Linked DNA regions of Homo sapiens. The protein of the gene in region 1 interacts with the protein of each later gene in a pairwise test. Each region holds a gene or a part of one and is shown on either strand. Other genes may lie near its edges.

What was found. Proteins that work in one complex are often made in the same cells at the same time.
Region 2: the proteins of ADD3 (region 1) and SIM2 interact in a two-hybrid assay, tested with the Homo sapiens proteins (one large-scale study listed by BioGRID and IntAct).

Annotation. Positions count from the first base shown.
Region 1 is NC_000010.11:110,125,643-110,130,910, forward strand, and holds part of ADD3 (gamma-adducin), read left to right. Parts: intron 1-183; coding exon 184-303; intron 304-774; coding exon 775-861; intron 862-4,720; coding exon 4,721-4,844; intron 4,845-5,268. UniProt on the Homo sapiens protein: Membrane-cytoskeleton-associated protein that promotes the assembly of the spectrin-actin network. Plays a role in actin filament capping. Binds to calmodulin.
Region 2 is NC_000021.9:36,740,615-36,744,114, forward strand, and holds part of SIM2 (single-minded homolog 2 long isoform), read left to right. Parts: intron 1-1,102; coding exon 1,103-1,250; intron 1,251-2,772; coding exon 2,773-2,941; intron 2,942-3,500. UniProt on the Homo sapiens protein: Transcription factor that may be a master gene of CNS development in cooperation with Arnt. It may have pleiotropic effects in the tissues expressed during development.

The DNA.
Region 1 (5,268 bases):
AAATGTTGATTTTGAGCCTTTTCTAACTAGTATGAGATGAAACTAATTCACCACTAAGATACTGCTTAGTGAAATTATTTAAACATTGGCAATGCCCCTCTTGAGACTATAAGCAGTTATCTAACAATCTACTAATATTTTCTTAACACAAAGCTTCATTTTAGAAAATTTTTGATTCTTTAGTGGATGAAAGCAGAAGACTCATCTAAAGTTAGTGGTGGAACACCTATCAAAATTGAAGATCCAAATCAGTTTGTTCCTTTAAACACAAACCCGAATGAGGTACTAGAAAAGAGAAATAAGGTAAGACATGGTCTTCTATAGCCAGGGGAGACATTTTAATTGCTTTATGTTTAAATCACCAGTGGTTGAATCTGGTTAATGCCAAACTTAGAAGTTTGAATACAGAAGAATTTGGAATTTAATTCAGTATAATTTTAGCTTATATTGAATGCCTCCAGCTCTGTGCTAGTAATTGGTGAACAGGCTACATGGGGAAGATGTATTGAACATTTTTCTGCGTTAGAGAACCCTGCTATTAGGGGGAAAATGCAGTTCTCTAACAACCTAAGACGAAAGGAAATAACTTGCCATAAAGAGCAGAGGAGACTAATATGAGTTGTTAGGATGGTAAAAGAGGTCTTTATGGAGGTGGGAATTGAAGAGACTCTCACTCTGGAAATGTCAAGTAGTAAGCTTTTATGAAAAGATAAAGCAAAGGTCATCTGCATAGTTGCCCTCAAGAACTTTATATTGAATTGTTTTTCAATTCAGATTCGGGAACAAAATCGATATGACTTGAAAACAGCAGGACCACAATCTCAGTTGCTTGCTGGAATTGTTGTGGATAAGCCACCTTCTGTAAGTTTATGAAGTAGTATGATCTTTGTTTTTTATTTACCACATTAATTTCATTGATTTTTAAATATGAATATTTATTTTTACTAAGGTTAATATAAGCACAAGTTAAAAAGTCAACTCACAAGATTTAAAATGTCACCCACAATTCCCAGTTTCCAGGTGCAGCAACTTTCTGTTCTTTTCATTGCTTCTAATGTTTACTTTGGTGTTTCTGGTTAGTTAGTTGAGATGAGGTCTCACTCTGTTGCCCAGGATAGTCGTGAACACCTGATCTCAGGTGATCCTCCAGCCTTGACCTCCTGAAGTATTGGGATTACAGGTATAAACCACTGCTCCTCGTCCTCCTTTGATGTTTCTAAAGAGCATCTTCTGCTTTTTCTTGGTCTATCAGTTTTAGACCTTGACTATTTTTCATCAAATCTGTGTTATCCGTTATAAGAAGTACCATTGTTTTATATGTCACTAAAAGAGAAAAAACACTGCCAATTATAATTGTTCCCAATTTCAGAGATGGAAAAAGTTCATCTTAGAATTAATGAAATATTTTTGAAAGATGGGGATTTAGCCTGTTTATACAGTGCTTCCCTTTTTCCCTCTCCCCATTCTCCCAGTAAGGATACATCACAGTTTTTGTTTTTTGTTTTTTGTTTTTTTCTGTTAGATCAGCTTTCGTTATTTATATTACTACATGTTTGCTGCTAAGCCAGGTAGTATTTCCTTTCTTACATAAGTCACCCCTCCCTACTCTCACCTTGCCTTTTTTTCATTGGCTTATTATTTGGGGTACATTGGCTTAGTTCTTCCCGAACTTTTTAAAAGAATTATAAAGTCCCGGCTGGGTGCAGTGGCTCACGCCTGTAATCCCAGCACTTTGGGAGGCCGAGGCGGGCAGATCACGAGGTCAAGAGATCAAGACCATCCTGGCCAACATGGTGAAACCCCATCTCTACTGAAAATACAAAAATTAGCTGTGCGTGGTGGCGTGCACCTGTAGTCCCAGCTACTCAGGAGGCTGAGGCAGGAGAATCACTCGAACCCGGGAGGCAGAGGTTGCAGTGAGCCAAGATCATGCCACTGTACTCCAGCCTGGTGACAGAGCGAGACTCCGTCTCAAAAAATAAGAATAACATAAAATCTGTCCTAATATTATTTTCCACAGGGTGAAAGTCAACAGGTAATCTCTCTGTTCCAGCCCCCCTTCATTCTGATCCAAATCTAAATTGGTTGCTCTCAGGCCAGCTGCACAGGTTCATCTGGAGGATTCCTGTGCTGCTGATCTATATTGTATTCCGTTTCCTGTATCTTGTGTCTTCTGCTTTCTTGATTTCCTCCTTTACTGTAGAACGCACCCTCTAATAGCTTTCCGAGAAAAGGATACATAGGTGGTAACAGTCTGAAATGCCTTTATTCTATCTTCAAATGTGCATATAATGGATATAGAATAGTTTAGAAATAATTTTCCCCTGAAATAAGAAAAGCATCATTCTGTTCCCTATTTTATTGTTGAAGTAGGAAGGCATTGGAATTCCTGAACCTTTGTTTAGGATTTTTTTTTTTTTTTTTTTTTTGCTTTTAGACCCTTTCTGCATCCCTGCTGTTCTGAAATTTTATGATTGTGTGCTGATCTCTTTTTAGTCTTTTTTCTAAGTAATTAGTAACCCTTTTCAATCTCCAGAGTCATATCCTTCAGTTCTGGAAGTTTTTTAAAAGTGTTTCTTCAAGAGTGTTTTCTTCCCATTTCTTTTTCTGTCAGTATATTATGTTAGTTTGGATGTTGGGCCTCTTTGAGCCTCTGATTTTTTTCTTTTCTCTCCTACTTGCCATCTCTTTATCTTTGTATCCTACTTTCTGGGAGAATGTTTTCTAACCCTTTTAATTTTTTATTTTGATGTTAACTTTTTTAATTTATTTTATTTTATTTATTTTTTTTGAGATGGAGTCTCGCACTGTTGCCCAGGCTAGAGTGCAGTGGCGCGATCTTGGCTCACTGCAAGCTCCGCCTTCCTGGGTGCACGCCATTCTCTGCCTCAGCCTCCCAAGTAGCTGGGACTACAGGCGCCTGTCACCGTGCCCGACTAATTTTTTTTGTATTTTTAGTAGAGACAGGGTTTCACCGCGTTAGCCAGGATGGTTTCAATCTCCTGACCTCGTGATCTGCCCGCCTTGGCCTCCCAAAGTGCTGGGATTACAGGCGTGAGCCACCACGCCCAGCCAACTTTTTTATTTTTAATAAGAGTTCTTATTCCCTGAATGTTCCTTTTTAATAACATCCTGATCTTTACACTTTCTCTTATTGCTCTAAGGGTATCAATTTTAAATTTTCTTCATTTGCCTTTGTTGTCTTTGTCTATTCTGAGTTGTTCCGTATGTCTGTTTATATGGAAGAATGAGACATTAAAGCATATCAGAAGCTCTGGGTATACACAGAGCTCGGGGATTGGTGGGCTTCACTGTAGGGTGATTGGATGTGGACCAGGTTGTTTCTCTGGGGAATCCCCAAACATTATTCTCTGTAATTCTTTTATCTGGGACTATTTAGTTTATCTGGAAAAGAACTCCAGTCTCCTGCCAGTTTCCAACCATCATTCTAGGAGCCTGCAACTGTATTTTGTGTCCCCTAGTTAGTTTTTCTTTCTTTCTTTCTTTCTTTTTTTTTTTTTTTTGAGACGGAGTTTTGTTCTTGTTGCCCAGGCTGGAGCGCAATGGCGTGACCTCAGCTCACGGCAACCTCCGCCTCCCGGGTTCAAGCCATTCTCCTGCCTCAGCCTCCTGAGTAGCTGGGATTACAGGCATGCACCACCATGCCCGGCTAATTTTGTATTTTTAGTAGAGGCAGGGTTTCTCCATGTTGGTCAGGCTAGTCTCGAACTCTGGACCTCAGGTGATCTGCTCGCCTTGGCCTTCCAAAGTGCTGGGATTACAGGTGTGAGCCACCGCGCCCAGCCTAGTTTTTCTTTCTCAAGCCTCTGATCTTCTGCAGAGATGAGAGAGAGGGAAATGCTTGGCTCTGTGGAATAGGGAAGGGAACCTGGGAATCTGTTTCCTATTCAGACTTTGAACATGTTCCTCTATTTTCACCTTTTCCTTACCACCACCTTCTATGGTACCTATTGCCTCTAGTTTATGGGCCTTACCAGACCTCTTCAGGGCAAATAAGCATGCTTCTCATTTGCATCCTTTTTTTCAGGACTGAGGCTTCAACTTTCTCAGCTCTGCTACCTGCTGTTCCACTTGCATTCCAGCTTCCAAAAATATGTTAACATTTCTCATCCTTTGTTGTTTCATCTCACATTCTTTTGTCCTTAAGGGTGTTTTGTTTTGTTTTTTTCTATTCCTTTACTATCATTTTAGTGGGGTTTTGGGAGGGATGAAAAATAAATACATGGGTTCCATATGCCAACTGCAACTGAAATTCTCATTATTTCCTTTCCTGGAGAAAACAGCTACAAGCTTATTTTCGTAACAGATTTAAAGAACTACTTTTGGTACAGTTTCATTTCTGTAAGCCTTTTTTACAGTGGTCTTTAAAATGGAGCAATTCTTGTTTTTTTCAAGTTTTTTTTATGTGAAACTTATTAGAACTTGGCATAATGGTTTTTAAAAATTATTAAGATTTACTTATACAGGCTTATTGAGGAAATATCACTGGCAATTTTAGTCCATTGGATTAGTAGTTTAAGGGCATCAATCTTACAAGAGCATTTTAAACAAAGCATGTTACCTTGCATTTCTTAGGATTGTTGTGAAATAAGGCTTCACAAACATCATATTTGCATTTATGTGTATATAGATGGATGGATGGATAGATATATAAGTAAAACTCTTGGTAATGAATCGATTTTTATTTTTTCTTTGTAAGACTATGCAATTTGAAGATGATGATCATGGCCCACCAGCTCCTCCTAACCCATTTAGTCATCTCACAGAAGGAGAACTTGAAGAGTATAAGAGGACAATCGAACGTAAACAACAAGGCCTAGAAGGTTAGTTAATCTTTACATTCAACCTAGGGTAAGCCACACTGATAACAATAAAGTACCTCACGTTGGATGATAGAAAGCAGTCAGTGTGGCCGGGCACAATGGCTCACACCTGTAATCCCAGCACTTTGGGAGACCAAGGCAGGTGGATTGCTTGAGGTCAGGAGTTTGAGACCAGCCTGGCCAACATGGTGAAACCCCGTCTCTATTAAAAATTAAAAAATTAGCCGGGCATGGTGGTACACGCCTGTAGTCCTAGCTACTCTGGTGGCTGAGGCAGGAGAATCGCTTGAACCTGGGAGGCAGAGGTTGCAGTGAGCTGAGATCGCACCACTGCACTGCAGCCTGGGCGACAGAGAGAGACTCCGTCTCAAAAAAAAAAAAACAGAAAAAGAAAAAAAACAATCTGAATGCTACTATTTTATAG
Region 2 (3,500 bases), on another chromosome or scaffold:
ACAGACAGCCCAGGAGTGTTTGGGCAGAGACTGGGGGCTTTGCCCAGCGGTATGACAGGAAGGCTGAATTTTTGTTGCATATGAGCCTCAAAGGCTGAATTTTTGTTGGAAATGCACCTTGGGGAGTTTCCTTCAGCCCCAGCTGGTACAGTCACAGACTCAGCCCCTTTGGCCACCTCCCCAGATCTCTGCTCAGGCAGCTGCTAGTTAGGTCCAGGGGCCAGTCCTGCCTTGAGAAGCAGGAATGTTCTGGAGCTGAGGACCCAGACATCCAAGGGTGTCTTTCTAGACTTGTGCTATCCTCCTCTTCCCTGGAGAAGCTTCACCTCTCCACTGCCCACCTGCGGGTTCTGGCACTTTCCTCCCCCACCTGCCTCCTGGAAGGCGGTGAGGTGGAATTGTGGTTTATGGGTGCACCGAGCCTTTGGCTGAGCTGCTTAGCGGCCTGGAGTTTGCACCCAAGCATAGAAGACAGGCCCATAGGCCCAATTTTCAGGAACTCTGCAGCCAAGTAGAGGTCTTTCCTACATAAACAACATAGCAAATTAATGGGCCCAAGGAAAACTGGGATTAATGGGAAGAAAATATAAATGGCAACAAACAGTTTCACTGTGAATACCCTCATGTTCCTGAACAGCAAACATCAGCAACAGCTTGACACTTGGTTGAATGCACTTAACTGACTACTTTGTGTAAATAACTACATCACTCACCCCCCCTCCCCATTAAGGATTTGGGGATTAAAACATAATTGTGGCATTTTGAAAACTAAAAAGCAGATTGAATTTTTTCATTCTGCCAGATACAAACTTTGGTGGCTAATGTTTCCCTCAATGAAAGCAATGACTGTTAAATAAGAGTTCTTAATGGGTGGGAACTCCTTGAAGCTGAAGGCAAAATTCCTGTGTGCACATGTATATGCACGCGTGTGTGTGTGTGCACGCACGAGACGCACACAGACATGCACCCTCCAGCGGAGAAAGCCCGCCCCCTTTGTCAAGTTCTCAGAGGTGTCCTTGGGACAGAGGTCACCGTTGGGGGCAGCATCCCAGAGGTGGGGCCTGCGAAGCGTCTGAGGACTCCTGTCACCTTGTGCTTGCAGTGTTGGTGAAGGGCCAGGTCACCACCAAGTACTACCGGCTGCTGTCCAAGCGGGGCGGCTGGGTGTGGGTGCAGAGCTACGCCACCGTGGTGCACAACAGCCGCTCGTCCCGGCCCCACTGCATCGTGAGTGTCAATTATGTACTCACGTAAGTCACACGTATTTGTTTCTCTCCTTGCTCTTTTCTCTTCCCTGTCCCACATCGGATGGCTCCAATAAGCACCATCTCTCTTTCTCTCTTTCTCAAACTGTTCATTTGTCTTCTGTTTTTTTTCTTTTTTTTAATTTTTTTTTTTTAGGAATCTGGTCATTTTGGAAGGTGCAAACTATTTCTATGCTCAGCGGTGAAAGCCAAGTGCTAGGCTGCAGGGGGAGCCAGGAGGAGGGGGCCTGCCCTGGGCATAGCTTCGGATCCCATCACAGAACCTAGTGAGGAGCATGGGGGCGGATGGTGATGCCCCCCATCCTGAATAGGGTGCAAAGAGGGTGCACACCCCCCATCAAGAATATAAACTTGTGCTATCCATGCCTATAAGCCTTTAGGTCATCTTAGATGCTCCTGCTGTTTGAGACAGGAAATATCCCATTTTTTACCTGTCTTCTTATAGAGCCTGTTACAAATTAATCATGGTGAATATTTGGTCCTTTAAACACTCCAGAAGGTCAAGTTCAGTCGCAAATGCCTTTTTTTTTTTGTAAATTAAAAAAAAATATGTTTTTGTAGAGACGGGGTTTTGCTATGTTGCCCAGGAGCTGGTCTCGAACTCCTGGCTTCAAGTGATCCTCCCACCTCGGCCTCCCAAAGTGCTGGAATTACAGGCATGAGCCACGGTGCCCAGCCTGCAAATACTTTTAAGGCCATTAGAAGCAATAGGACAGATGTCTATCTGGGGCCATATATTACTTTCCACCCACCATAGCTATTGTACGTTCAATCACCTTGCTCCAGGCTGTGACCCTTGCCATGCCGCCAGCCCCATGATGAAAAGAGTTCTCGTTTGCACTTTACATGGGGTGAGGATTTAGGCTCTAGGTTTGTTCATAGAATGACTGTGTCTTAGAAGTCAAGTGATTCTGACAAAACTGTCAGGGAGAAAACAGTTTAGCCCTTTAGTTATTCTTCCTGAGCAAATGTGTGGGCTGGTTCTCCAGGTCGACCTCTCCTTGTGTGAACATGACCCTGCTGAGTTGGTTCTTTAGGGCAGAGATGGGCCCCCGATGTGAGAATGCACAAAGCTGGTGGTCAGGCTCCCAGACCTGTGAAGAGTCCCGGACTCTTGCCTCCTGGGGTGCTAACTGGAGAGGCAGCTGGGCCACAGGTGTGCATGTTGGATGCAGGTGGACCTGATCAATGGTATTTCTGCCTGTCTCTTTTTCCCTTGGTGGCTTTCCTCATGGCCCACGACCTCCCCGAGCAATGTGTTTGGGGTTTTATTGGACTGGAGAGAGCTCTGACCTGGCTCAGCATTTCCTGGGGTGGCCCAGCCTGGGGCTGCAGATGGCTTTTATAATGAGGGTGAGCTGGCCTTGTCTCAAATCCCATCCACATCCAATCCCAGTGAAAAGACACACTGGAGCACTGAGAACGCCCTGCCCAAGGGCTGGGGCCAGGGAAGCTGCTCGGCCTCCAGCGCCTGCTGGACATGACTCGGCCCACTCTCGCCTTCCAGGGAGATTGAATACAAGGAACTTCAGCTGTCCCTGGAGCAGGTGTCCACTGCCAAGTCCCAGGACTCCTGGAGGACCGCCTTGTCTACCTCACAAGAAACTAGGAAATTAGTGAAACCCAAAAATACCAAGATGAAGACAAAGCTGAGAACAAACCCTTACCCCCCACAGGTAACACGCATGTCCTGCAGTTTTGGGGTGCTGACATCTATCCTAGGGGTTCGGGACACCTGGACACATTAAGGAATGGGGAGCCTCTCATTGCACAGCAGGGATCTCCCTGCCGTGGAGCAAGGTCCCTCTGGGATGTCTTGCCTACACAGTAGTGACAGCCCGGGGAAGGCCGACATCCCGGTGGGCTAGTCAAGTTTAGGAAACAGAAGACTAAATTGGAAAGGCACTTCAGCCCACTAGAATCCATGGGTTAGATTCTAATGGGCTTGACGGGTTGGAATCCACGGGTTAGATTCTAGACTGGTGGGTTAGAATACCAGTCCATTGTATTTCTGCAGCATTTTAAAAATGAAAGCCCTCCCTCTTTTTAAAAAAGTAGTTTGTGAGCTCTCAGAAATAGCAATTGTCGGTTGGGCGTGGTGGCCCATGCCTGTAATACCAGCACTTTGGGAGGCCGAGGCAGGTGGATCACCTGAGGTCAGGAGTTTGAGTCCAGCCTGGCCAACATGGTGATACTCCATCTCTATTAAAAATACAAAACTTCGCGCCTGTAGTC